4 linked regions of the Homo sapiens genome follow. The protein of the gene in region 3 interacts with the protein of the main gene of each other region in a pairwise test. Each region holds a gene or a part of one and is shown on either strand. Other genes may lie near its edges. The genes, in order: ASZ1, SYAP1, TNFRSF10C and ARL13B.

The links.
Region 1: the proteins of TNFRSF10C (region 3) and ASZ1 interact in binary tests that used the Homo sapiens proteins (3 or more experiments, as listed by UniProt).
Region 2: the proteins of TNFRSF10C (region 3) and SYAP1 interact in binary tests that used the Homo sapiens proteins (3 or more experiments, as listed by UniProt).
Region 4: the proteins of TNFRSF10C (region 3) and ARL13B interact in binary tests that used the Homo sapiens proteins (3 or more experiments, as listed by UniProt).

Annotation. Positions count from the first base shown.
Region 1 is NC_000007.14:117,382,479-117,389,514, forward strand, and holds part of ASZ1 (ankyrin repeat, SAM and basic leucine zipper domain-containing protein 1), read right to left. Parts: intron 3,332-7,036; coding exon 3,220-3,331; intron 2,383-3,219; coding exon 2,248-2,382; intron 633-2,247; coding exon 508-632; intron 1-507. UniProt on the Homo sapiens protein: Plays a central role during spermatogenesis by repressing transposable elements and preventing their mobilization, which is essential for the germline integrity.
Region 2 is NC_000023.11:16,714,830-16,722,637, reverse strand, and holds the start of SYAP1 (synapse-associated protein 1), read right to left. Parts: upstream 3,027-7,808; 5' UTR 2,914-3,026; coding exon 2,739-2,913; intron 1-2,738.
Region 3 is NC_000008.11:23,098,555-23,105,947, reverse strand, and holds the start of TNFRSF10C (tumor necrosis factor receptor superfamily member 10C precursor), read right to left. Parts: upstream 3,028-7,393; 5' UTR 2,827-3,027; coding exon 2,767-2,826; exon of another isoform or gene 2,390-2,766; intron 1-2,389. UniProt on the Homo sapiens protein: Receptor for the cytotoxic ligand TRAIL. Lacks a cytoplasmic death domain and hence is not capable of inducing apoptosis. May protect cells against TRAIL mediated apoptosis by competing with TRAIL-R1 and R2 for binding to the ligand.
Region 4 is NC_000003.12:94,053,154-94,056,213, reverse strand, and holds the end of ARL13B (ADP-ribosylation factor-like protein 13B), read right to left. Parts: intron 3,028-3,060; coding exon 2,951-3,027; 3' UTR 536-2,950; downstream 1-535. UniProt on the Homo sapiens protein: Cilium-specific protein required to control the microtubule-based, ciliary axoneme structure. May act by maintaining the association between IFT subcomplexes A and B. Binds GTP but is not able to hydrolyze fit; the GTPase activity remains unclear.

The sequences.
Region 1 (7,036 bases), on a different chromosome or scaffold from region 3:
GCACAGGTGTTTGAGGCAAAAAAACCCACAAAAAACAAAAAATGAAAAAAAACCACACCTCTTTAATTGCAATAAGTAAAATTTAAGTAACTTTAAATGGGGTAAGGAGAGAATTATTTTTGGCCATGTACTCAACAGTGGTGTTCTGGGGGGAAAAGTATATGTTTAATTTTAGCTTATAAAATTAGAACTGTACTAAAAATAATTAGAAAACAAGGTGTTATACTGTTTGAACACTAATATAATTTCAGAACCTTTTAAAAATAGATTTTATTGTTGATATCTTACTTAAAGTTTACATTTAAAGTTATTATCATTAGTGTTAGTACATAAAAATGAATAAAAATTTTCTAAAATTCTGGAGAACACTAAAAACCCAGACATTTAAAAATGCTTGTAAACATTTAAAATATCATATATTTTAAATAAGTCACCACATTTACTACAATAAAATATACACAAATTTTACTTATAGGTATTCTGTTGAACTAAAACATGCTATATTACCTAAAAATGTGATCTTTTTCTCTATCAGAATCTGTTGTCAATATTTTACAAATAGTGTCTTCTTTAGTTAGCTGTTGAAGTTTTCCTTCCAATGGATTTAAAGTAAAAGAAAGTAAGTTGAAGATCTGAAAAAAGTTAACATCATTCAAATATAATTAACATTGCATACTGTAACTTACACTTAAAAGAAACTGAACATACGATTATCTCATATCCAGAAAGGAAATTTTAGCAAGTAAGTGGGACAGATGTTTCACAATTTACTACCCTGATAACAACTTTTAAAAAAATGATATATCACAGTTGTATATATTTTGGGGGGTACATGCGATATTTTGATACACATATACAATGTATAATAAACAAATCAGGGTAATTGGGATATCTAAGTGCTTCCTTAACCTACAATAATCAGAAAAGAAAAAAGTACATCTAATTCAAAATAGTAAAAATTAAAGGAAGATAGTAATTAATATTTTTGGTAAGATACATAGCGAAACTAAAAATTCCATTTGGATAAATGACTCAGATTAAATATTAAGATAGTACTTTAAAAACATTGCTAAGTGGCAAGAGAGTAATGAGCATGACTAAATGTATACAAATCCTAACTGAACACCTCAAAAAGATATGGTGAAATTCCTGAGTTTTAAAATCTAACCTCTCAGGAAGTCAAGGTTATATCACATACTCAGCCAAAATACAAGATCAAATCTCATTTCAATAAATGATTTATGACTCAAAATAACCTTTGATGTTCATAAACTTCTTATGTCAAGTTTGGTGTCATCTACTCTACATTTAACAATGTAATAAAATAATTTTAAGTTTTTGAATTTTCAAAGTTTGGAAGAAAAATGGTAAATTCCTTTTTGAAATTCTACAGGGCTGTAGTGATTACTGTTTATCCTATAAAAATTCTGAAAATATTAGAATAATATTTGGAAAATGATAGCCATGTTTATCAGATTGCTTAAAAGGTTAGAGGAAGTTACTTTATATGCAGTAAAAGTGGCTTGGTTTGATGATTACATGACGGAATCTTTGGAATTTTACGTGCTTTCAAATTCGGGAACTCAGTGTTACAAACTCTTGAACTAAACAACTTAGTTTTATAATTGTACTATACTTGATCCTTGCTTAGAAGTTACAGACTTGTGGCTAAAGCTTTAATCTTCAGACCAAAAGTTTATATTGATAAAGTAATTTAATGTATGGCAAGTATTTATTATTGAGTTTAACATCTGAATGACAGATTATACATCCAGGTATATTATCACTTTATCGTAAGCCCTGTCACACATATAAGAGCAAATGTTGTTTAAGGAATTTAATTTTTAAATTGTTTAATACATTAATTAAACTTACAAAAGAATGTTTGAGTTACATGTTCAAACTGGCATTTTACTAGCTTTCACTAAATTACTTTTAAAATTCTGGACCAGTTTAAAATGTTTAAATAGTATATTACAATTTTATTCCTGGGGCCAGAATAAGATTTTATTACTCTTTTATAGAGCTTTTAAATTACTATAAGTGCTTCTTGTTTCATAGAAGATGAATACTCTAGCAAAATAAAGTTCTCATTACCTGGCTGGAGGAAAGATACATATTTAAACATTTAATAATTGCCAGATACACTATAATTACACTTTTAATTCTAACAGAATAATACAAAAGTTCTACAAATGATAATGTGATATGCCACAGAAAATAAGTTTAATATGTACAGAAGGATACCTCATGATGTTTGTTTCTTTTTGCAATCTCACTTGGCATCTTTCCATCTTTGGTTTGTAGCATTTTATTAGCTCCAAGTTCAAGCAACTTCAAAACTATATTTTTATGACCCTGACGTGCTGCCCACGTTAAAGCCTGTAAGTAGGGGGAAAAGAAGATTGTTTAAAGAGAAGGAGTGTATATGAGACAGACAGGAAAAGTTTTCAACAGTATTTATGACACAATAAAAAAGAGAACATAGTTAATTAATGGAATGATGCAATCTCTTCATTTTACAATATAATGTAAACATATTTCCAAAGTTGTAATTGCAAAGCTGACTGCAAAGCTCATTGATTTTTTAAAACCAGTGTTTTATACAATTAACTGATGTTAAGGAATAAAATGATTTATTTGCCAATCACTGAAGGGTTTTCTACAAAAAATAATTCTTATGTATATTTTAGAGCCCAGATTTTGCTGTGTGTTACAATTTTTTTTTTTAATCAAGAGTAAGGACTACGAGAGTCAGTTAATTCCTCATTTCTATTTCTTTTCTTTTCTTTTTTTTTGAGATGGAGTTTCGCTCTTGTTGCCCAGGCTGAAGTGCAGTGGTGCGATCTTGGCTCACTACAACCTCTGCCTCTTGGGTTCAAGCGATTCTCCTGCCTCAGCCTCCTGAGTAGCTGGGATTAAAGGCACGTGCCACCATGCCTGGCTAATTTTTTGTATTTTTAGTAGAGACAGGGTTTCACCATGTTGGCCAGGCTGGTCTCAAATTCCTAACCTCAAATGATCCGCCTGCCTCGGCCTCCCAAAGTGCAGGGATTACAGGTGTGAGTCACCATACCCTTCTATTTCAACTGTTGCTTTTTTTCACCAGATAGCAATTATATTCCAGCCCTTTTGTAATTATTACTTCTTAAAATTCTTTTTTTGTAGATTACTGATAATAACAGAAACAAAAAGAAACATTGTAAAAATGTTTCTCACAGTGTAACCATTCTCATCCTGGGTATTAACTTCTGCTCCATGAGCAACAAGGAGAGCAACAACCTGGGTGTGACCATCTCGAGCAGCATACATGATTGGGGTCATAAGTCTCCTAAGGAGGAGGAAGAAAGGAAACATTTGTGTTAATGCTGCCATTAATCTCTCATTTTCATTAATTTAACCATACACAATACCACCAGTACTGCTTTGAAAACGAAAAGAAATGAAAGCTTTTGCTAAATCAGGTGATTTAAAAATCCAACCTTCCTGCAAGTAAGTACAAGTGAAAGAGATGACACTTTTAAAGTGCTGAATGCTTACACAGCACCCTCTAGTGAATAAATGTATTAAAAATACATGAAATAAGCCACGCTTTCTACTATGAAGTTCACTAATATACATATTCATCTAGAAAATTATCAGTGTACCCACACTATGCTTATGCTAGGAATATAGTAATGAATGACACAAATAAGGTCCCTGCCCTCAAAGGATTTGCTAATACTAAATGCTTATTACATTTTATTTAGAGGATTGCTGAAACAAAAATGTAAATTTAAAAACTTCATTCCTTAATGTATTCTATTATGATTCTACTTTAGTCTGAGACTGAAAGAATTTTATTCTGACTGGGAGACTTACTATATATAATTAGAAAAGAGATAAGTCCAATAGATTAACCAGCTTAATATTCTCTTAAGAGTACTTTCTGGGAGAGGATAGTGGTTTCTCTGTAGTTTATCATTTCCCAAAATTAGAGATTCAATCCTTCTACTCCTGGAAGTTAGTCACCTTCTGGGCCTATTCCAAGGACACCAGATTTTATCAGCTCTACTTGGGCTGAACATAACATCATGGTCTGTTTTAAAGGAGGTCTGAGACTCTGAGCCCAATTTTCCTGAGTCGTCCTCAAGATCTGATTTATACACAAAGAACTTTGGAAAAGAAAAATAAATAATTTCAGAGTTCCATGTTTTGATCTTACCAAGAAAGTTTTTATTGGTTATTCACATTACATATACAACCTACCAATAGACTATTTCTCTGTAAGGTTTGTTAGCATAAGGTTATACCCTGAAATCTGAACACTTCACACCTATGTCCTTGTTAGCACAATTCATATATATCTGTTTCTTATATTTCATGGTATATTATAATTTGAATGTTTTATGTGAAATTATATGCTAAATCAGTTGTAAAAGATTGCCTCCTCTACCTTGAATATCCCTTACATAGTGGCTTCATTAGATAGACAATCTTTATGAGGTAAAGATTGAATTTCCTGGATAACTTAAGCAAACATAAAAAAATATATACAACTAGCCAGGTGTGGTGGCTCAGGCCTGTAATCTTACCACTTGGGGGGCTAAGGCAGGTGGATTGCTTGAATCCAGGAGTTCGAGACCAGCCTGGGCAACAGAGGAAAGCCCTGCCTCTACCTCTACTTAAAAAAAAAAAAAAAAAAAAATTAGCTGGATGTGGTCTGCACAACTGTAATCCCAGCTACTTCAGAGGTGGGAGAATCACCTGAGCCTGGGAGATCAAGGCTTCAGTGAGCCGAGATTGTGCCACTGCACTCCAGCCTAGGCAACCAGAGTGAGACCCTGTCTCAACAACAACAACAACAACAACAACAACAACAACAACAACGCCACCCAAAACCCCCACATACACACATACGTGGCAACAACAAATTATTTGAATTAACCATTCGAATTCAAATTCTTCATTACATCTAAATCCGAACTGTTGATGTCTCATCTCCACTGCACTTACCTGCATAATAACCCAAATCTGCTCCTCTCAGTCTTCCCTATTTCATAAAGCCACCATTAACCACATTACTCAGGCTTAAGACTAGGCATAATTCATGACTCTTCTCTGTCATTCCAAGTACAAGTCACCGGCAGCTCCTATTAGCCCTGCCTTCATAATCTGCTTCTGATCACTTTTCATCACCTCATTAGCCACTGCAGTGGTCCAAGACAACATCATCTTTCTCTGATTTATATTGCCATAGTCTCATAACTGCTCTCCTCCATGCTTCCATTCTTGGCCACTTACAGTTTATTGTCTTTGAAAATGCCAAGATCTCCCCTTTGCAGGAACTGTGCAAGTGCTCTTGCCTGTCCCCAGACCTTCATATTGCTAACTCCTTATTCTTATACAGATCCTTATTAAGAGAAGATCAGTAAAATTTTCAAACCTCTAGCTAGACTGATTAAGCAAAACAGAGAGAAGAAACAAGTTACCAGTATCAAGAACAAGAGAAGTAACATCAGTACAGATTATCCAGATTTTAGAAGTATGAGGAAGTATTATGAACAAATTTATGCCAATAAATTAGACAGTTTAGATGAAATGGATAAATTTCTCAAAATACACAAGCTACCACAGCTCACTCAAAAAGAAATAACCTGAATAGCCCTAGACTTATTTTTTAAAAACTTAATTAGTAATTATAAATTAAATTAAATTTTCCACAAAGAAAACAGCAGGCCAGATGGCTCCACTGGTGAATTCTACAAAACAGTTAATGAAAACAACATCAATTCTAAACAAACTCAACCAGTAAACTAAAGAGGGGAAGATGCTTCCCAACTCATTCTATGAAGCAAAATTACTCTTATACCAAAACCAGAGGGTGCCATTATAAGGAAAGAAAACTATAAACCAATAATCTTCACTGAAAATAAAAATGTTTTAAACAAATTTTAACAGAATCCAAAAATACATAAAAAGGTTAATACATCATGACTACAGGCAATTATCCTAGGAATGCAAGGCTGGTTTGATATTTGAAACATCAATCAATATAATGTACCATATTAACAAACTAAAAATGAAAAAAAACCCTCAACAAATGCAGAACAAGTATTTTACAAAATCCAACATTTATTTCTAACAAAAACACTCAGCAACATAGGAATAGATGAGAACTTCCTCAACCTGACAAAAGCATCTATGGAAAATTTACAGTTAACATCATATTTAATGGTGAAAGAGTACTTTCCCCCAACATCAGAAACAAGACAAGGATGTATGCTCTCACATTTCTACCCAACATTGTATTGGAAGTTCTAGCCAGCGGAACAAGACAAGGAAAAAGAAAAATGGTAGGCCTCCAGATGGGAAAAAAAGCAAAATTGTCTTTATTCACAGACAGCATGATGTATATAGAAAACCTGATGGACTCCACAAAAAAAGTACTAGAACTAATGAATTTGGCAAGGTTACAGCATTCAAGAGAAATATTTAAAAAATCAATTGTATTTCTTCATGCTAGCAATGAACAACATGAAATGAAAATAAAACAATACAACTTAAGTAAAAATATAAAAGCCAGGAAATCTATTGCTGTTTATTAGAAATGCACCTAGTATTTGCATATATGCATATATAAATACAGGGTGATGGTGATGTATTTGAATATATCTGACTTACAGTTGTCTAAGTAACAATTTGGATCCAGAAGTCTTTTTTTTTTTTAAGATTCAGGAGGTACACGTTAAGGTTGGTTAATGGGTATATTGTGTGTTGCTGAGGATGAGGTTTGGTCTTCTATTAATCCCACCACCCAAGTAGTGAATATAGTACCTAATAGGTAGTTTTTCAACCCTTGACCCCTCCTTGCCTCCTCCCCTTTGGATTCTCTAGTGTCTATTTTTAACTGAGCATCCCAGCCTCAAAATGCATTTTAAAACTTTTTTTCCTTTCTTGTTTTCAGCTTTGAAACATATTTTGAAATGCTTTGTTTCTACTTTTCCCACCAGGCACTTCAATGAACAGTGCTTGCTTATCTAATTATGTGCTTGCT
Region 2 (7,808 bases), on a different chromosome or scaffold from region 3:
TAGGTCACCAGGAACCAGGAAGTATTTAGTGTCCAGTCTTGAAGGTAGGCACTCAACAAATATATGCAGAACAAATGGGGCTCCCAGGAGATTTTTTTTTTTTTTTTTGTGAGATGCAGTCTCACTTTGTCACCTACACTGGAGTGCAGTGGCGCGATCTCGGCTCACTGCAACCTCCGCCTCCCGGGTTCAAGCGATTCTCCCGCCTCAGCCTCTTGAGTAGCTGGGATTATAGGCGCGCACCACCACGCCCAGCTAATTTTTGTATTTTTAGTAGGGACAGGGTTTCACCACGTTGGTCAGGCTGGTCTCGATCTCCTGACCTCGTGATCTGCCTGCCTTGGCCTCCCAAAGCTGCTGGGATTATAGGCGTGAGCCACCGCACCCGGCTGATATTTTATGTAGATTTCAAAAGACTTAAGAAATGAATCTACTCTGGGAGTCAGGCTCACAGATGTTTAATTCCAGTTTTCAAAACATAAATGGGTCTTCTTAAAGACAATATACTTCTTAGGATCAATATGTAGAAATAAAAAATATCTGATCATCTCTCTTGTCTCTCACAGTTTGTATATGAACTAGAACCTTTACGACTTTCTAAAATCACATAAATTTCAGAAAAGAAAGAATTCTCATTTATTCTGAAGCTTTAAATTCACAATGTGTGTGTGTTTGTGGGTACTTCCATCTAACCTCAGCTTCCGTAAATATCAAAAGAGAATCTGGTGAGCAGAAAGATGGCAGCATTAGCTCCAAAGTACACATCCATATGAAAAATGCAGTTATTAGAAAATATTCAGAGGGGCCAGGCACGGTGGCTCACGCCTGTAATCCCACCACTTTGAGGCCAAGGTGGGTGAATCACTTGAGATCAGGAGTTTGAGACCAGCCTGACCAACATGGTGAAACACTGTCTCCATTAAAAATACAAAAAAAAAAAAAATTAGCCAGGTGTGGCAGCGTGTGCCTGTAGTCCCAGCTACTCAGGAGGCTGAGGCAGGAGAATTGCTTGAACCCAGGAGGTGGAGGTTGCAATGAGCCGAGATCGTGCCATTGCACTCCAGCCTGGGCGACAGAGCAAGACTATTCTATCTGGGGGCCTTGGGCTGAGATTATACACTGTCATGGTTTGAGATTATGTCTGTTTTCCCTGTCCTTTCATCCCACAGTAAACTTTTAAACGTTAGGGCCCAGCCTGCCCAACATCGCGAAACCCCATCTCTACTAAAAATACAAAAATTAGCTGGGCGTGGTAGGGCATGCCTGTAATCCAAGCTACTGGAGAGGATAAGGTAGGAAGATCACTTGAACCCTGGAGGTGGAGGTTGCAGTGAGCCAACATCGTGCCACTGCACTCCAGCCTGGGCGACAGAGTGAGACCCTGTCTCCAGAAAAACTGTTCGGCCCTTTCTTACTCAAATATGTGTTTATCTACTCTCAGGCTGCTCTCCTCCCACATCCCTGTCTCCACCCCCATCCCCCCACCCCCATCTTTTAGTAGATTCTTCAAATGTTGCTGAACTTAGTATCTACCTTTGTTGCAGTTCTCTCACTTGTAGTGCTGGGCTGCTTTAGGGCTCACCTCCTCAAAGATGCTTTTTTGTTTTGTTTTGTTTTGTTTTTTTGAGATGGAGTCTTGCTCTGTCACCCAGGCTGGAGTGCAGTGGTGCGATCTCAGCTCACTGCAACTTCCACCTCCCCAGTTCAAGCGATTCTCCTGCCTCAGCCTCCTGAGTAGCTGGGATTACAGGTGCCCGCCACCACGCCCGGCTATTTTTTGTATTTTTAGTAGAGACGGGGTTACATCGTGTTGGCCAGGCTGGTCTCGAACTGCTGACCTCATGATCCGCCCACCTCAGCCTCTCAAAGTGCTGGGATTACAGGCCTGAGCCACCATATCCGGCCTCAAAGATGCTTTCTGTGATCACTGAAGCCCACCATGGTCTCTCCAGAAATGAGAATTACTACAGCATGTGTTTACTCCACGTCTATTATCACCTGTCCCCCAACCCCTGTAGACTGTAAACTTGGAAAGAGCACGGGCTTTAAAATGAGAAAGATCGAAGCTCAAATTCCACTTCTACCACTCACTATCAGTATAACTTTGGCCCAATAACTCTGGGCTTGTTCCCCCAACTCACTGGGGGTGTTTAACAGATGAAATGGGATATCTTTCATAAAACATCTAGTACTGCAACTTGCGTATAGCAGACAGTTGGCATTTTCTCTCCCTCCTTAAGGAAAAAGGTCTCTGTACCTAAAAAGCATTTGACCGGGGCAGACATTGACATTCAGTAACTGTCAGTTTACTTCAGACAACACGTTCTGACCTAGGGGCAAAAAATTATTTTTTCAACCAATTCAAGCTCGCCAACTATCCCCGATCTGGGGGGTGTAAATGAAGGTTTTCGAGTTGAACAAAAAAGATTCCTTGTCAAACCTGAAGACGTCGGGTCACACTGCTTGACTGCATACCTGATTCCAATGTCTGCAAACTTTGTAGACTTGTCACCAGGAACTTCAGGGACAGGACCTGACTGCTAGATGAAGCTCTGGCCTCGTCCAGATCCTCACCAATCTCTCCCGACCCGGAGAGGACTGACCGACAGACACATCTTCCTCCCCTGCCTCCCACCTCGGCCCCCTCATCCCCCAGCCAGTCGGGCCCGCGCCCCAGGGCCGTCCCAGAGGAGGAATGCGCCCCCCCCTTCCCGGTCCCAGAGCCAGGGTAGACTCACTGCCGAAGTCTTTGGCCTGGTGGAGGAGCTCCTGGTCTCCCGCTTGCTGCAGCTCCTCCTCCGCAGACTCAGCCACCGTCTCGGACGGCTGCTCGGGTGGAGCATCTCCATTGGGCTGCCCACCGCCTGCCACCGGCTGCTGCAAGCCCAACCAACTGCTCAAGCCCCGGAACATCCCGCTCGCGGGCCGCCGCCGCGGTCCCGATCCCCAGAGACCGCAGCGAGCACTGGTTGCCTTTGACTCCACTCTGCGCGACTCCCAGGGAGATGTCCGGAAGTCGGAGGAACACCGCAGCCGCCGCAGCCCCGCCTCTATGACGACTCCGCCGCGGCCGCGCAAGCGTCACTTCCGTCCAAAGGCTCCGCCCCTGGTGACGTCAGTTGTGACAACTGTTTTGTGCGCGTGGATAGGGGACAAAGAGCTTTCCCAGCGTAGCCCTGCCTTCCCTCTTTTCCTCATTCGCCAGCTTTGTAGGTGACTGACCTAGTAGGCATGTGGACGGTGTCTTTGTCACAGTCCTAGCCAGTCCCATTTTAAGATTGCCTCTAGGCAGCTTGGCTGGTGACTTAGTCTCGCCTTTTCAGGTCCCGCAGGGCTGCGTTCCCGCAGAATTGGATGTCTTTAGCCTCCTCCTGAGCCCAATTCAAAACTAACCCAAAGCCGCCAAGCCCAACAGGGAATAAGAGGACAGAATAAGGTGTTAAACAACACAATGGGATGCTGTCAGCAGAATCTAGACTATGAGAAGCCACAGGACAGACAACCTTGTTTCTTCAAATAAATTGCAAGGAAGAGAGGAGTGTGGTGGGGAACCTATAGATTAAAAAAGACTTAAGAGATGTAACACATGGCCCCTTGTGCATTTTATTAGGATCCTAATTCAGCAAACACATTGAAAAAAATAGTATGATACTTATTATAAGAACTGGAAATTTGGACACTGGGTAGTTGATAAAATTAAGGAATTGTGAAATTACAAAATTTTAATTGTGGTAAAATACACAAAATTTACCATCTTAATATGATTTACCATCTTAACCGTTTCTAAGTGTACAATTCAGTACTGTTAAGTACATTTACATTGTTGAGCAATCAATCTTCAGAACTCTTCATCTTGCAATTAAAAGAATGAAAAATAGTCCGAGTGCGGTGGCTCACGCCTGTAATCCCAGCACTTTGGAAGGCCGAGGCGGGAGGATCACAAGGTCAGGAGTTCGAGACCATCCTGGCTAACACGGTGAAACCCCGTCTCTACTGAAAATAGAAAAAAATTAGCCGGGCGTGGTGGCGGGCGCCTGTAGTCCCAGCTACTAGGGAGGCTGAGGCAGGAGAATGGCGTGAACTCGGGAGGCAGAGGTTGCAGAGTCCATTCTCAAAAAAAAAAAAAAAAGAAAAAAGAAAAATAGAACTTCATCTTGCAAAACTGAAACTACCTATGAAACAACTCCCCATTCCTGTCCTTGTCATCCCCCTCCTCCCCCCATTCTACTTCTTGTCTCTATGGATCTGACTAGATACCTTAATATAAGTGGAATCATTCAGTATTTGTCTGTAACTGGCTTCTTTCACTTAGTATAATGTCCTCAAGGCTGTGTCAATTTCTTTTTAAGAGTGAATAGTATTCCCTTGTATGTATACACCACGTTTTGTTTATCCATCTGTTTATCCACCGCACATATTGAGATTTTACCAAAGAAATGATACCATATCTGGGCCAGGCGCAGTGGCTCACGCCTGTAATCCCAGCGCTTTGGGAGACCGAGATGGGTGGATCACCTGAGGTTAGGAGTTTGAGACTAGCCTGACCAACATGGTGAAACCCCGTTTGTACTAAAAATACAAAAAATTAGCTGGGTGTGCTGGCGGGCGCCTGTAATCCCAGCTACTCGAGAGGCCGAGGCAGGAGAATCACTTGAACTCAGGAGGCGGAGGTTGCAGTGAGCTGAGATCCTGCCATTGCCCTCCAGCCTGGATGACAAGAGCAAAACTCCGTCTCAAAAAAAAAAAAAAGAAAAAGAAAAAAAGAAATGATGCCACGTCTGGAATTTGCTTCAAATTAATACAGGATGGGGGTGGGGGGAATGGGGGGGGATATAGATGAAACAAGCCTGGCCATGGGTTGAAGCTGGGTAGTTAAACATTTGTCTTTTTTATATTTTTAACTTTTCCCACAATAACATGTAAAACTAACAAAAAACTAGTGATGTGCATAACTACCCCTTCAGAGCAGGGAGTTCATGGACACATTTCCCAAGCACAGTCTTCAGTCATTAATTGTGGAAGGACATCCATGATTCCTTGCTCCCCAACTATTTTGAGAAGAGGAGGACAGTTCCGGTGACCTGAGGGAATACATGAGGAATTGATTACAACTCTGATTTCCCTGCTGTCCAGTTTTCCAGCCTGACTTATATTTATATTTTATTCAGGTCCAGGATTTTAGGTTATCAAGCCCAACCTGTTTTTTTCTTTCCCCCAAACAGCTGAGATTTAAACAATTCACCTGTTTAAAGTGTACAATTCAATGGTATATATTTTTGGTGTATTACACTATTAATATTTTAAATTGAAGTAAAAATAAATTTTTTTTAGTGTACAGTTCAGTGGCATTGATGACATTCCAGCCTGTTTTTAGAGTCCAAGTATTGATTCAGCTTTGAAGTCAGGAGATGTCTTAGGATCAATGCCTTTCTAGGCTTTATTAAGTCAATGAGAACCTGAAAGTGGTTGAGACTTTCGGGAATAGGATATTTGCTTCAAGTATGATTGAACAGAGCCTGGAATTTGAGTGAGAAGCCTAGGATGGGCTTCTAATTCCACCATCTAGTAGGTGAATAAACTTGACTTTTTTTTTTTTTTTAGACGGAGTCTCACTCTGTCTTGCCCAGGCTGAAGTGCAGTGGCACAATCTCGACTCACTGTATCCTCTGCCTCCTGGGTTCAAGCAATTCTCCTGCCTCAGCCTCCCAAATAGCTGGAATTACAGGCACCTGCCACCACACCTGGCTAATTTTGTATTTTTAGTAGAGACGGGGTTTCACCATGTTGGCCAGGCTGGTCTCGAACTCCTGATCTCAGGTGATCCACCCACCTTGGCCTCCCAAAGTGCTGGGATTACAGGAGTGAGCCACCGCACCCGGCCTAAACTTGACGTTTTACTCATCCTTTTGCCCCTCAAGTTCCCTCACTTGCAAAAGAAGTATAGTGCTGGTCCTTCCCACAGCAGAGATAGGGCCCAGCCCTTTCAGCCTTACTCTGCTTTATCTTAAGGTACACTCAAAATCGTGGTGAACACTGTGGTCACCAAGGGATAGACAGTTTTACAACTCTTCTGAAAGGTAGAATTCTTAAAAATAAGAGATTAGGCTGGGCACAGTGGCTCATGCCTGTAATCCCAGCACTTTGTGAGGCCGAGGTGGGAGGATTGCTTGAGTCTAGAAGTTTGAGACCAGCCTGGGCAACATAACGAGACCCTGTCTATACAAAAAATAAAAAATGAGCTGGGTGTAGTGGCTTGCACCTGTCGTCTCAGCTACTCAGGAGGCTGAGGCAGGGGGATTGCTTGAGCCTGGGAGCTGGAGGCTGCAGTGAGCTGTGATCGTGCCACTGCACTCCAGCCTGGGTGATAGAGCGAGACCCCGACTGAAAAAAAGAAAAAAAAAAAAGATTACAAAACAAGAACATAAGCAATCAACTTAATGATGGGCTTCATTTTCATTTTAAAAAAATCATCTGGCCAGGCACGGTGGCTCATGCCTGTAATCCCAGAACTTTGAGAGGCCGAGGCAGGTGGATCACCTGAGGTCAGGAGTTCGAGACCAGCCTGGCCAACATGGTAAAACCCTGTCTCTACTAAAAATACAAAAATTAGTCGGGCGTGGTGGTGGGCGCCTGTAATCCCAGCTACTCAGGAGGCTGAGGCAGGAGAATCACTTGAACCCGGGAGGTGGAGGTTGCAGTGAGCTGGGATCATGCCATTGCACTCCAGCCTGGGCGACAAGAATGAATCCCCACCTCAAAAAAAAAAAAAAAAAATCATCTTGTGCGGATTCAGCAAGATGTTATGCTGGTGGTGGGCCATGAACTGACACTTGTTGAATGAGGATACATCCTTATCCCACACAATTCAGTCAATCCACACCCTGTTATCAAATTTGTTTTCCAGCTCATTATTTTTCCCATTTGAGATTAATAATACAATAGTTATTATAATGAGCCCTTTGTATATACAGATTATCTTTTATCCATTAGCCTCATGGATGAATAGAATAGGACAATTGGATCAGGCCTCACATCCTGTGGTGGAGTCTGGCTGTGCATTGATGTCCTGGCTTTGCCACTCATATTAACTAACGTACCCTTGGTCAAGACATTTCACATCTCTGAACCTCAGGTCCCTCATTCTAAAAAGGGGATCATAACAACTGTCCTGGTTCTAAAAAGATAATGAAAGACGGAACTGTGGAAGGAAACCTTACATATGCGGCAGGTATTAAGTATTAGCACCCATACCAACCCATTTCACAAACATTCTTTCCCCTGAGCCCTCTGGAAGACTTGTTTATGCCTCTAGCCTTTTGACAAGGTGGTTCCTTGTCCCTCCCCTGGACCCCCCAACACCCATGGAGACCTGGATCTCCCCCAAGGCTACCCTGCTGAGTGAAGCGTCTGCTTATTTTCCCAGAAATTGACATCATTGTTCCAAGTTCCTTACTGCTTCCTCCACAACACTGTTCTTTCATCCTTGGTGGGGAGAAACTCCATTGTGTTTATTTTATTTTATTTTTTGAGATGGAGTTTCGCTCTTGTCGCCCAGGCTGGAGTGCAATGGCGCGATCTGGGCTCACTGCAACCTCCACCTCCCGGGTTCAAGAGATTCTCCTGCTTCAGCCTCCTGAGTAGCTGGGACTACAGGCACCCGCCACCGCGGCCGGCTAATTTTTTGTATTTTTAGCAGAGACGGGGTTTCACCGTGTTAACCAGGATGGTCTCGATCTCCTGATCTCGTGATCCACCCACCTCGGCCTCCCAAAGTGCTGGGATTACAGGGGTGAGCCACCATGCCTGGT
Region 3 (7,393 bases):
AGAGATCAGAGAAGCAGCTGCTCAGAGAACTCTAGCCCTGAATCTCATTTTACCACTTGTAAAACAGGAAAAACAACCTACCTTCATCTCCCCGGGTTGTTAGGAAATCCACTACATGAAGATGTGCATTCTCTGGCTGGAAGCAGGATACCAGCTGCCCAACGGCAGAGGCTCGGGGCATGGCACTGTCCCCACTGTCCCCATCCCTGACCTAGAAGCTAGAGCCTCACTGCCCTGCCACTCCTGGATACACGACAGAGGACCAGAACTGGGACTGTGGCCTCTCAGTACAGCCTGGGTGAGTAGCCATCTGCAGCCACCTGGATGGAGACATTTCCTGCTCACTCTTCAAACTACAACCCGGGCCAGGCGCCTACCAGAAGGACAACTGGAAGCATGGCAGGTAAACCAGGCTGTGGCCCTGCAGTGCCATCGCTGTCCTCACTTGACGTCTGGCTCCTCTGTTCCTCCATGGCCCCTCCCCGTGGTGCTCCACCCTAGTCTTCAGAAGCTTCTGCCCCAAGCTCAGGGAGCAAGTACCAGGGTGCAGGTAGGAACAGGGGCAGCCTCTGCTGGATGGAGGACAGGTGCCTGGGGATCCAGTCCAGAGTGAGTGACACCAGCCCTGAGGATGTGATTTGTCCTCCCACACCTGGTAACACAGCCCTCTGAGGTTTACACAGGGCTGCTGAAGATTTTTACCTCCTCTTCACTTTACAGGCAGGAGCTGGGGCCACACCAGAGTCACAGAGCCAGAGGGGGAGCACGGCAGGGCCCAGCCATTCACAACCTTCAATCTCAGGAGTCCTTGACAGCCTGAGAGTCCGAGATTCTGAGCCGTTGGAACTTCTCAATTCCTACTTTGATAGAGAGAGGAATGGTGTGGAAGGACCTGGCGCACAGATTGGACCAGCCCAGCATTGACAGAGCCAGGACCTGGGGTCAGGAACTGAACTCAGCTCCAGGCTCATCTGAAGTCACCCTGACAGGCTGAGGATGGAGACCTTATCTCCATTCACAGGCATGGTGGGTGGCAGGGACTGGCCCCAACTGACCAGGGTTTTCCAAGTGCACAGCTCAGAATTCAGTCTTCCCTGCTGTCTCATCTGGATACCCTGGTCTACTCCCAGTACCAAAAAACTCCTATATCCTTGAAAATTCCTAATACCATGAGGAAACAAAAATACATAGCAATGTGATGTGTTATGTTTTACATCTTAGACTAGTAAAGAATGAAAGCTAAGTGTAGCAAAGGTGTAGGGACACAGGCACATTTGTGGACTAGGTGTGACTGTAAGCTGGGTTCAGTGGTTTTTTGGAGGAAAATTCGTGAACATTTAAAGAAACTTCTGAAGTCATTTATCCCACAGAAGGAGAAGTAGAATTCAACTTGTAAGGAGTTGCCCAATAAGCTGGTGTGCATGGATATGTGGACACACGATACATACAAGGGTATTTAGTACAATGCTGTTGGAATTAGCAAAGGCCGTCAGGATGGGATCTAACCAGCTGCCCCTAGGCGGCAACAGTGAATTAAAATGTGGCTTACCCATGCAGTAAAATACAATACCCTTGTTTAAAAGAAGATCAATCTGAATGTACTGCCATAAAACATCTAATGTGATTTGTGTTAGCTCCAAAATTTAACAAAGTGATTGTACATTTAAATGCATTTAATAAGGCAAGACTGATGGAGGGATTAAAGCCTCCTTTGGGACGCATAGAGTTCACATTCCCAAAACCGTGAAACTGATGTTGCTGGCCTTGTCTACACTGGTCATCCATGCATTCTCTCTTCAGGGCCACTGTCCTGACACAGCCATTCTTCTAGCTGCCTCAGGTAAGTCCACCCACTATAAACTATTTTAAAAGTCAGTTGTGTAATTTTTGAGAGGTGAAAATGTTACTGCTTTTCTGAATTTAGCATTAATTTGTAGAAAGACAACATGCAAACTCTCATGGTTTCTGTAACCTTGCTTTGGCCTTTTCTTTTTCTTTTTTCTTTTTTTTGTATTACATAAAGAATCTTAAAAAGGGCTGTTAGCAAAAACCTCAATCAATCTGAAAGAGACCTAGAAGTCTGCATATTTTATACATAATATGTCCTTGCACTCACACTACTACCAATCTCAGTTTCCAAAGCCAACTCACAACAACTTTACACCGTTTATGCTGAAGGAAGGGGCCAGCCCCGGTCCTGCCTATGGGATACAGAGGGGACACACGGGTGGTAGTGGAAGACATTAACCAAGGCAGCACCTTGGTTAACCGCTTCCTGCCACATTCCGGCTTCCTGCCACTTTCAGGACAGAGGAGGTGAAAGTTGCTAAAGACAGCGCTGAAAAGTTTTTTCACTGGCTGTTGGTTAAACCGATCTCCAAGGAACACGTTTAAGAATGTAAACATGGGGTTAATTTTATTAACTAATTAATTAATTAATGAGAGAGGCAACCGCTCTGTGTCTTCAGGAGGCTCACTCTATGGGTTCCACCTTGACTCCCTCCCTCTCTCGATTCTGGAACTTCCCTCCCTTCGCGGGCTCGGGGCAGCCAGGGGGACCGCCTCTCTGCTCCCTCGCGGCCGGGTCCCTCCTGCCCAGCCCGGGGACCCAGTTCTTCCCCTGACTCCGACGGCGAGTTCGTCCTGCCCGGACATGCCCGGCCGCAGGTGACCAGGGCCAGGCATCCCTGCCGTGTCCCCGTCTCCCTGCCCCCTCCCGGCGCCAGGTGCGCTCTTCCCCAGCCAGGGACCGCGGCCGGGACTCACTGGCAGCAGGACCGCGACGATGACGACGACGAACTTTAGGGTCTTGGGGATCCGGGCCATGGTATGGTTCCCGACGCCGTCCTGGGTCCTGGGTCGCACCCTGCCTCGGCCATCAGGCGGCCGGGGCGCTCTGTCCCCAGAGTTCCCTAACGGTAGGAAGCGCTCCTTCACCCCTTGCATCTCTGGTCAAACTCCCAAAAATCTATCAGAAATCGTTGGCTGAGTTCGTGCGCGTGGAGAGGTTCCCACAGCTGCACTGCCAGAATCGGAGCGCAGCGCCTCTGAATTTATACCCGCGGGGGAAAAGGCGTGGTCACTTGTCACTTGCAGCAGTCACTTCCAAGCACTCAGAAAAGGGGCATGGCCTCCCCTAGCACCTCCAGGAAGGCCTGGGTTTTGGTGGTGGGTGCATGGACGGACAGGAACTGGCTCTTTCCGGCAGCGGTGACCCAGGGCCTGCGGTTTGATTCCGGGTCCTGTCCAGGCTGTAGGCAGCAGAAGGGGAAGGAGCTGAGGCGCTGCCCACTGCGCTGCTGTAGTCTGGGTAGTGAGCTCCAGAGGAGGCACTGGAGGCCCATCCTGAGCCTGCTCCCTCCCCGGGACGCCTGTCTCTCCTCTTCTTAAACCCTGAACTACCTCCTGGCCTAAGGACTTCAGTCCACTCTTAGCTTCTGCTCCCACTCCCTCCTCCCACAGCGGCCTCACTGACCAGTGCACTGATGCCACTGATGTCTCCAGCCTCCTTGCTGCTGTGACCCAGCTCCAAGCTTCTCTGGCAGGGGCTTGGTATCCCTCAGTAGCGGGTGCCTGGCACCAAGGAGGGGCCCAGTGAACACATGAGTGGACAGAATGAAGGACACAGGGGCCATGACGGGCACATGCAGAGGCTGAGGAGTAGGTAGGAGGGAGAGGAACCCCGGGGGCATCCCTAGCCACAACCTGGCACCCTTTGCATGGTCGAGGCACAGACACTCTCTGGCCGACCTTGTGGGCTCTAGTATTGAGGCCCCATGGACAGAGGAGGCCCAGGGGAGTGGCTTCCAAAGCCTGTCCCCCAGTCAAGTGTCTATCCAGGTCCAACTATCTGACCTTGGGCTACTCACCTCCCCATTGAGTTAAGCACACTGCTGCTGTGTGGAGAGATCCAATGTGTGGTACTGAAGGGTGCCAGCCTGTGACCCTAGGCAGTAAGGTCAATGGCACAACTCCTAGACCCTTGGGGTGAGTCGGCTCCTGACCTCTCACATGGTGGATAAAAGAGGATAGCACTATAGAAACAAAGATTTTTTTTTCTGCTCATCAGAAACCTGGGAATGATATGTCATCCTCTCCACAGGCTTGGATTTGAGCAATGGAGTGCCCTGGGCACCTGCCAGGCCCCAGGCACTGAGTTCGGATCAGAAATGTGTGCCAGGTCGCAGGCACTGAGAAATGTGTGGAGTCAGGAATGTGTGCTGGGGGCAGATCTAGGCAGGAGGTGAGAGGACAGGACTTCAGGAAGACTGACAGCATTAACACAGAGCCACGAGGGCCTGCAGGAAAGTCTTTAGAGCACTCCAGGCCCCTTGGCCCTGGAGGGTGGACTACACAGTGTAGACTAGAAACCAGACTGCAGGTAACACACATTCTCTGTGCCCTGTGTGGAGCACTGCCTAGGGCTAATGGCAAAAGGCTGTGAGCACCTCCAGGGAACTGGGCCTTTAGACTATAAAGTTTCCATTTGAGAGGCACTTACTAGCTTACGATGGAACACTAGCTGAAGCTCCCCCTGTGACTGAAGGACATAAAATAATCTTGAAACCTGAAAAACTCATGATGTCTTCAGAGATCTTGGAAAAGCTCTAACGGGGAGGGCAGTCCCCGAAGAGTTCTATTACAAAATGGAAATGGTTGATACGGGATCCTGGTGCCTGAGGAAGGCAAAGAGGAGACACTCATGAGCAGGGAGCCTCTGTTCCCCACAGACTGAGTCTGGAACTGAGTGAGGAGCTGCTGGATTCTGTGGTCACTTGGACACTGCCCTATACGCAGCTCTTTACTGACCAACCAAGAGCTACTTAGTTTGTAGACAGTCATTCCTAGGTGAATGGTCAACATCCTATTTGGAAGGCCACCCCTCTGATGGAAGAAGGCAAAGGCAAATTGGCTAGGTGGGTTGGATTGCATGCTGTTTTCCTAGCGTGATGGAAGATTTGACAGCAGCAAAAGCCCCTGTACTTGAGTTGTTTTCTGGCTCATGAACAGTCCTCAACGTCTTGGTCATAGAGTTGGGAAGCAGAATGTGAAAGTTGATTGCACAAATTGGGTCATTCTTGTCACACCCAACTAAAACAGAGTCAAGAGGCCATGGGGAAGAAAAATCACTGTATTACCCCCAAACTGCAATTCTCTGTAAGCCTGGCAGCTGTAACCTGAAACTATTAATAGTCCTATCTAATATCTATGGACATAACCTGCTACTGCTCTAAGACCAGCCTGACCCACTGCAGTCACTCACCAGTCAGAGCACGCCTCTTCTTCAAATTTGACAGTGCCAATGAGCTTCCTAGAAAAAAAAATAATTAGTATTTCTCCTTTTTTTTTTTTTTTTTTTTGAGATGGAGTCTCGCTGTGTCACCCAGACTGGAGTGCAGTGGTGCGATATCGGCTCACTGCAAGCTCTGCCTCCTGGGTTCACGCCATTCTCCTGCCTCAGCCCCCCAAGTAGCTGGGACTACAGGTGCCTGCCACCACGCCCAGCTAATTTTTTTGTGTTTTTAGTACAGATGGGGTTTCATCGTGTTAGCCAGGATGGTCACGATCTCGTGACCTCGTGATCCGCCCGCCTTGGCCTCCCAAAGTGCCAGGATTACAGGCATGAGCCACTGCACCTGGCCAGAATTTCTCCTTTTAAAAAAGCCTCTAAACTTCTCTTTTTGGTCTTTGGACATATCAAAGACAAGTTGGTCTTTGTATATGCCAAGCATTGCAATTCTTGCTTTTCAAATAAAGTGTATTAAATTTGGATATTCGTCTCTACATTCCCCATTGTTTCCAAGAATAATGGAAAACTGGCCTATTGAAGGGATGTCCATATGAGGCCTGACCCCATGGCAATCTCTAGGGGGACTTGAGGAGCGCATTAAAGTAGGACACATCCATACTGCTCAGTAGAACCTGCCTCAGGTTTGGAAAGTGATTGACATCAGCAAGAGATACCACCCACCATGTACTCCCTTGAGGTGGTCACCAGAGGCCATTAAATAAAAGGAGTGGTTATGGGGGAACCACAGTGATGCAGAGATGGGCTGAATCGAAACACATTCCTCTTGCTCTCTCTCAGGCACATAATGCCAATAAGAGCTGTTCTGTCTAGCAGCGGGAGAGACACAGACTGCCTATAGCTATGAGGCAGATTCCCTGATGGGGAGGCCCTCAACATACTTGGAAAGTGAGACTGAGGGCAGTGCCCTGGGGGGTACAGGTGAGTCTTGACAGGAACAGAAACTGACTGTGGATTGTCTTTTGCTTACCTGGTGGAGGCTGCAAATGCCCAGAGTGCTATTAATATAAAAGAACTGAAATAAGGTATTATTCTAGTTTGGACCACTAAGTCGCACTTCCTTGGACCAAGAAACATGCCGTTCAGTGCATAATGTTTAGCAATGGGCAGAGAGATACCCTCCTTAGAGTAATAATTTGACAGGGAAGCAGAACAGTCAACTGAAACATTGATTGTCTAAAATGGGGGGAGACACAGGCATGAAGGGCTGGCTTCCACACCTTCACTGGTGTGTGCCCCTACTCCACACGAGTGGGCTAAAGGAGTGTCCCCACCAGACTTTCCTCCATTTTTCCAGTGGATCTGGGGATGAGGAGGTAGGGAGGATGCTAGTGTGATGACTGTCATTTTGTTGGTGGTGGTGGTGGTGGTGGTAGTGGTTTTTTTTTTTTTTTTGAGACACAGTCTCGCTCTGTTGCCCAGGCTGGAGTGCAATGGCATGATCTTGGCTCACTACAAACTCCACCTCCTGGGTTCAAGTGATTCCCCTGCCTTAGCCTCCCGCCACCACGCCCAGCTAATTTTTATATTTTTAGCAGAGACGGGGTTTCACTGTGTTGGTCAGGCAGGTCTCAAACTCCTGACCTCGGGTAATCTACCTGCCTTGGCATCCCATAAGTGCTGAGATTATAGGCATGAGCCACAGCGCCCGGCCAGTGACCGTCATTTTTGTCTGTCTTCCCTGTATTACCTCACCTCTCCCCTTCTCCCCACCCACCACCTGGTACCTTGGCCACAGGGCCAGGGCTACAACTATAAACGCTGGAAGCAGCGACGACCCCTAAGCCAGGAACAGACTACGTGTTTAGACTTTTCTGTCAATTTTCTTATGGACCTGATGGGACCCCAGTCTTGCAAAACTGGGGCTAACAGTAAATGCAGCTACATAGCCTGATACAGTTTGCATGTGTGTCCCCTCCAAATGTCATATTGAAATGTGATCCCTGAGGTTGGTATGGGCCTGGTGAAGGTGTTAGCGTCATGGGGGAAGAACCCTCATGAATGGCTCACTGCCCTTTCCACAGTAATGAGTGAGTTCTCACTCTGTTAGTTCACTAGAGAGCTGGTTGTTTAAAGGAGTCTGGG
Region 4 (3,060 bases), on a different chromosome or scaffold from region 3:
GAAGTTAATTTCTGGCTTTCTTTTTTTCCCCCCTCAAAAAACAGGTATCTATTATTCTGTTTCTGTAAAGATAAAGGATTATTGCTATTTTGATAACCTATGCCATGCTTAATTGAAAATTTTAAAATATTTGAATTTGTTCTTTGGATCAGTTGGAATATACTTCCTGATAAATTAATAAACCATTATTAGCAGAATCTCAGTTGCAAAGCATATTCCACTTAGCAAAAAAATTTACTAAGTAAAGCCAAGGATGATAAAGTTTATAAGCTACAGCTTTATATGTATAAACAATTTAGCTTGTGAATAGCTTTTGCTACCTAGAAGCATTTGATTTCTTTAGTTGTATTCTGCAGGTGAACTGCTCCACGATGTTCACAGGTTTTACATATTAAGGGAATTGTAGTCTTAATCTGGCATTTATAAAAGCACTTAATTTTAAACTTGCAGAAAACATGGTACTTAAATAATTTATACAATATTATAAATTTGCCTCCCTCACTACAAAAGTAAGCCAAACTACATTTCTTTCTAGTGTTGTTTCTATGCATAGTTTTATATTTGAAGTCAGTTACATACAATATCATGTATACTACGTAATATGCATTTTACACATAAAGGCACACAAGAGCCTCTTTTAAATACATAAAAACATATCTGTTGACCAACAGCTTTAACGCAAGACAGACATCAAATCCTCTAACATCATATGGTGAAATGCTATTTGTAGCTGCATTTAAAATCACAAATTCTTTCCCACATACATAAAAACTTGCAGAGAGAAAAAAGTTTTGTGTGTAAAGTATCAAAAAAATGCATTATTTTAATCTACTGATTTAAACTGTTTTTCAATAATCATATTTTAAAATCTTTACCTATTTTATTACCCAAAGGAAATCATTTAAATCTACCAATTGAAAAGAGAAACAGAATATTGATATAAATTATTTTTATTGTGTGAAAATGTCAAAATTCAGAATTAAGAATAAAAGTATAACATATAACAAAATAGGCATTTAATTGTTAAAATACACCTGGATTTACAAAACATTTTTTAAAATGTTTTTAAAATGCTTAAGGAATAAAAATTAATTTTTGAGAGAGCTATATAAAATGTGAATTCTATATTATATTTAATTTCAAAATCATTTATTTTTATTAAATGAAGCCAGTAGCTACACTATAGTAAACAGATAGAAAACACAAATTTTAAAAACACGTATACTCCCAAACGAGATAAATATTAAAAAGATAGCAAAAGTATGAGTTTAGTTTTAAAATTAAGTAAATGTTACAAAAAGCTATGCAATTTTCCCTCTAAAATCCTTTTCAAAGTTTACATTGTCTTTTCGTATTGCTTTTCATCACATTTCAGCCACCTCTCAAATTTAGGTTGTTACGAATTTTAGATCTGAAATCAAATGCTTTTACCTCACTCAGTGTGGTTGCTAAGTCCCATGTACAAACTCCAAGAATATATACAGTGCTGACTAGAGTACAGGTGACCTGATTATTAAAGTTCAGTGAGTTAAAAAATGTGAATAAAATCTGATGTTCTGAAGTACAATTTTTAAAGTAAATAATTATATTAAACGACATAAAATGTACTTAATGTTATCAGATACTAGCACATGTCTGTTGTGTCAGTACAAGTTACCAAAAGCACCAATCTTAACAAGGTGGTATAAAAATCATTCTGTTTATACTATTTTCATTGGATATAAAGGTTTGTTTTCAATTAAATGTAACATTATGAATCTATTATTAAAAATATACATCTAGAAGTTAGTCTAAATGCCAAATACAGAATCTTATGGATGCCATTCTTAAGTGCAAGAGAAGTGCTATCATTTTAAATTAAGAAATTATTTTGGAATTATTTATTTATAAAAGTAATTTTGGGCCAACATTTTTATTCTCATTACTTTAGTACACAAGCTGTTTCCCAGTTGTAAAACAGAAGTCTCTGGACCTGCAGTAGGTTTTCCAGTTTTTCTGCCTTTAATTTCATAGTTTAATTTCAAGGCATGAAAGAATTAGAATCACCTAAAAGAGTCACTGCAGCTTCTGATGGAACAAGGGAGTATAGGGAGCACCTTGATCTCTGAAAGTGTCTAACCTTTAAAATAGGACTTTACTGAGACTTTTAATAGTATCTCACAGAATGTATTTTGATTAATTTAAAAAACATTTAGGTACAAAAGGTATTTCCAGTCTCATTGAGTACTGTTTTCAAATCATGTAATTGTTAGAATAAAGATCTGAGAATCTACTACTTCGAAAATATATTATTTTTAAATTAGGTCAAATTACGATGTACACTTAAAGAACAACGCTATTACAAAACATACCTCAAGCCATATAAATATATCCTGTTTGTATAGTTCATGTCTGAAAGTAAATCAACTCTATTTTCCAGATATAATTTAAACAAATCATCTATAAAAAAGGTGTATAATCAATATCACAGTAATTAAAATTTTTAAAGATTTAAAAAAATATAAAAATAGTTTTAAAATTTTGGTTATAAATTCCTAGAAGTCCCCCTTCTATGTGCATATATCTTACAAAAAATATTTAATATCTAGAAATATAGGCTATTGAACAAATAGTAAAGAAAGTGCTGAGTCCATTGGCTCTTTTTGTAAAGTTTTCCTTCAGAAGTATGCTCATGAGTGGGGATGTATAAACCAGAGTCAACAGTAAATCTTGCTAATTTGGTCCAAATGCTGATTTCATGTACTGGTCATTGTGCTTCTTTTATTTTTTTAACCATGAAAAACACAAATAAGTAATTATCAAGTCAGGTCCTTGAGTATTAATCTTCTCACTAAAATTATTATGGTTATCTTGCCCCAGTCATCAATTTACAAGATGTTTCTTCTTCTGAGAAAGAAGAATGTCCCAGTTCACCTTGCTGATATTAAGAGAACTCCTCCATACGTCTTGTTTATGAGATCACATCATGAGCATCACTGTTAGGTCGCTGTGGCACAGCCAGGGGAGGCAGTGGCTTCCTATAGAAATCTAAGAAAAGAAAGAAAACCAAATGCACAAAAC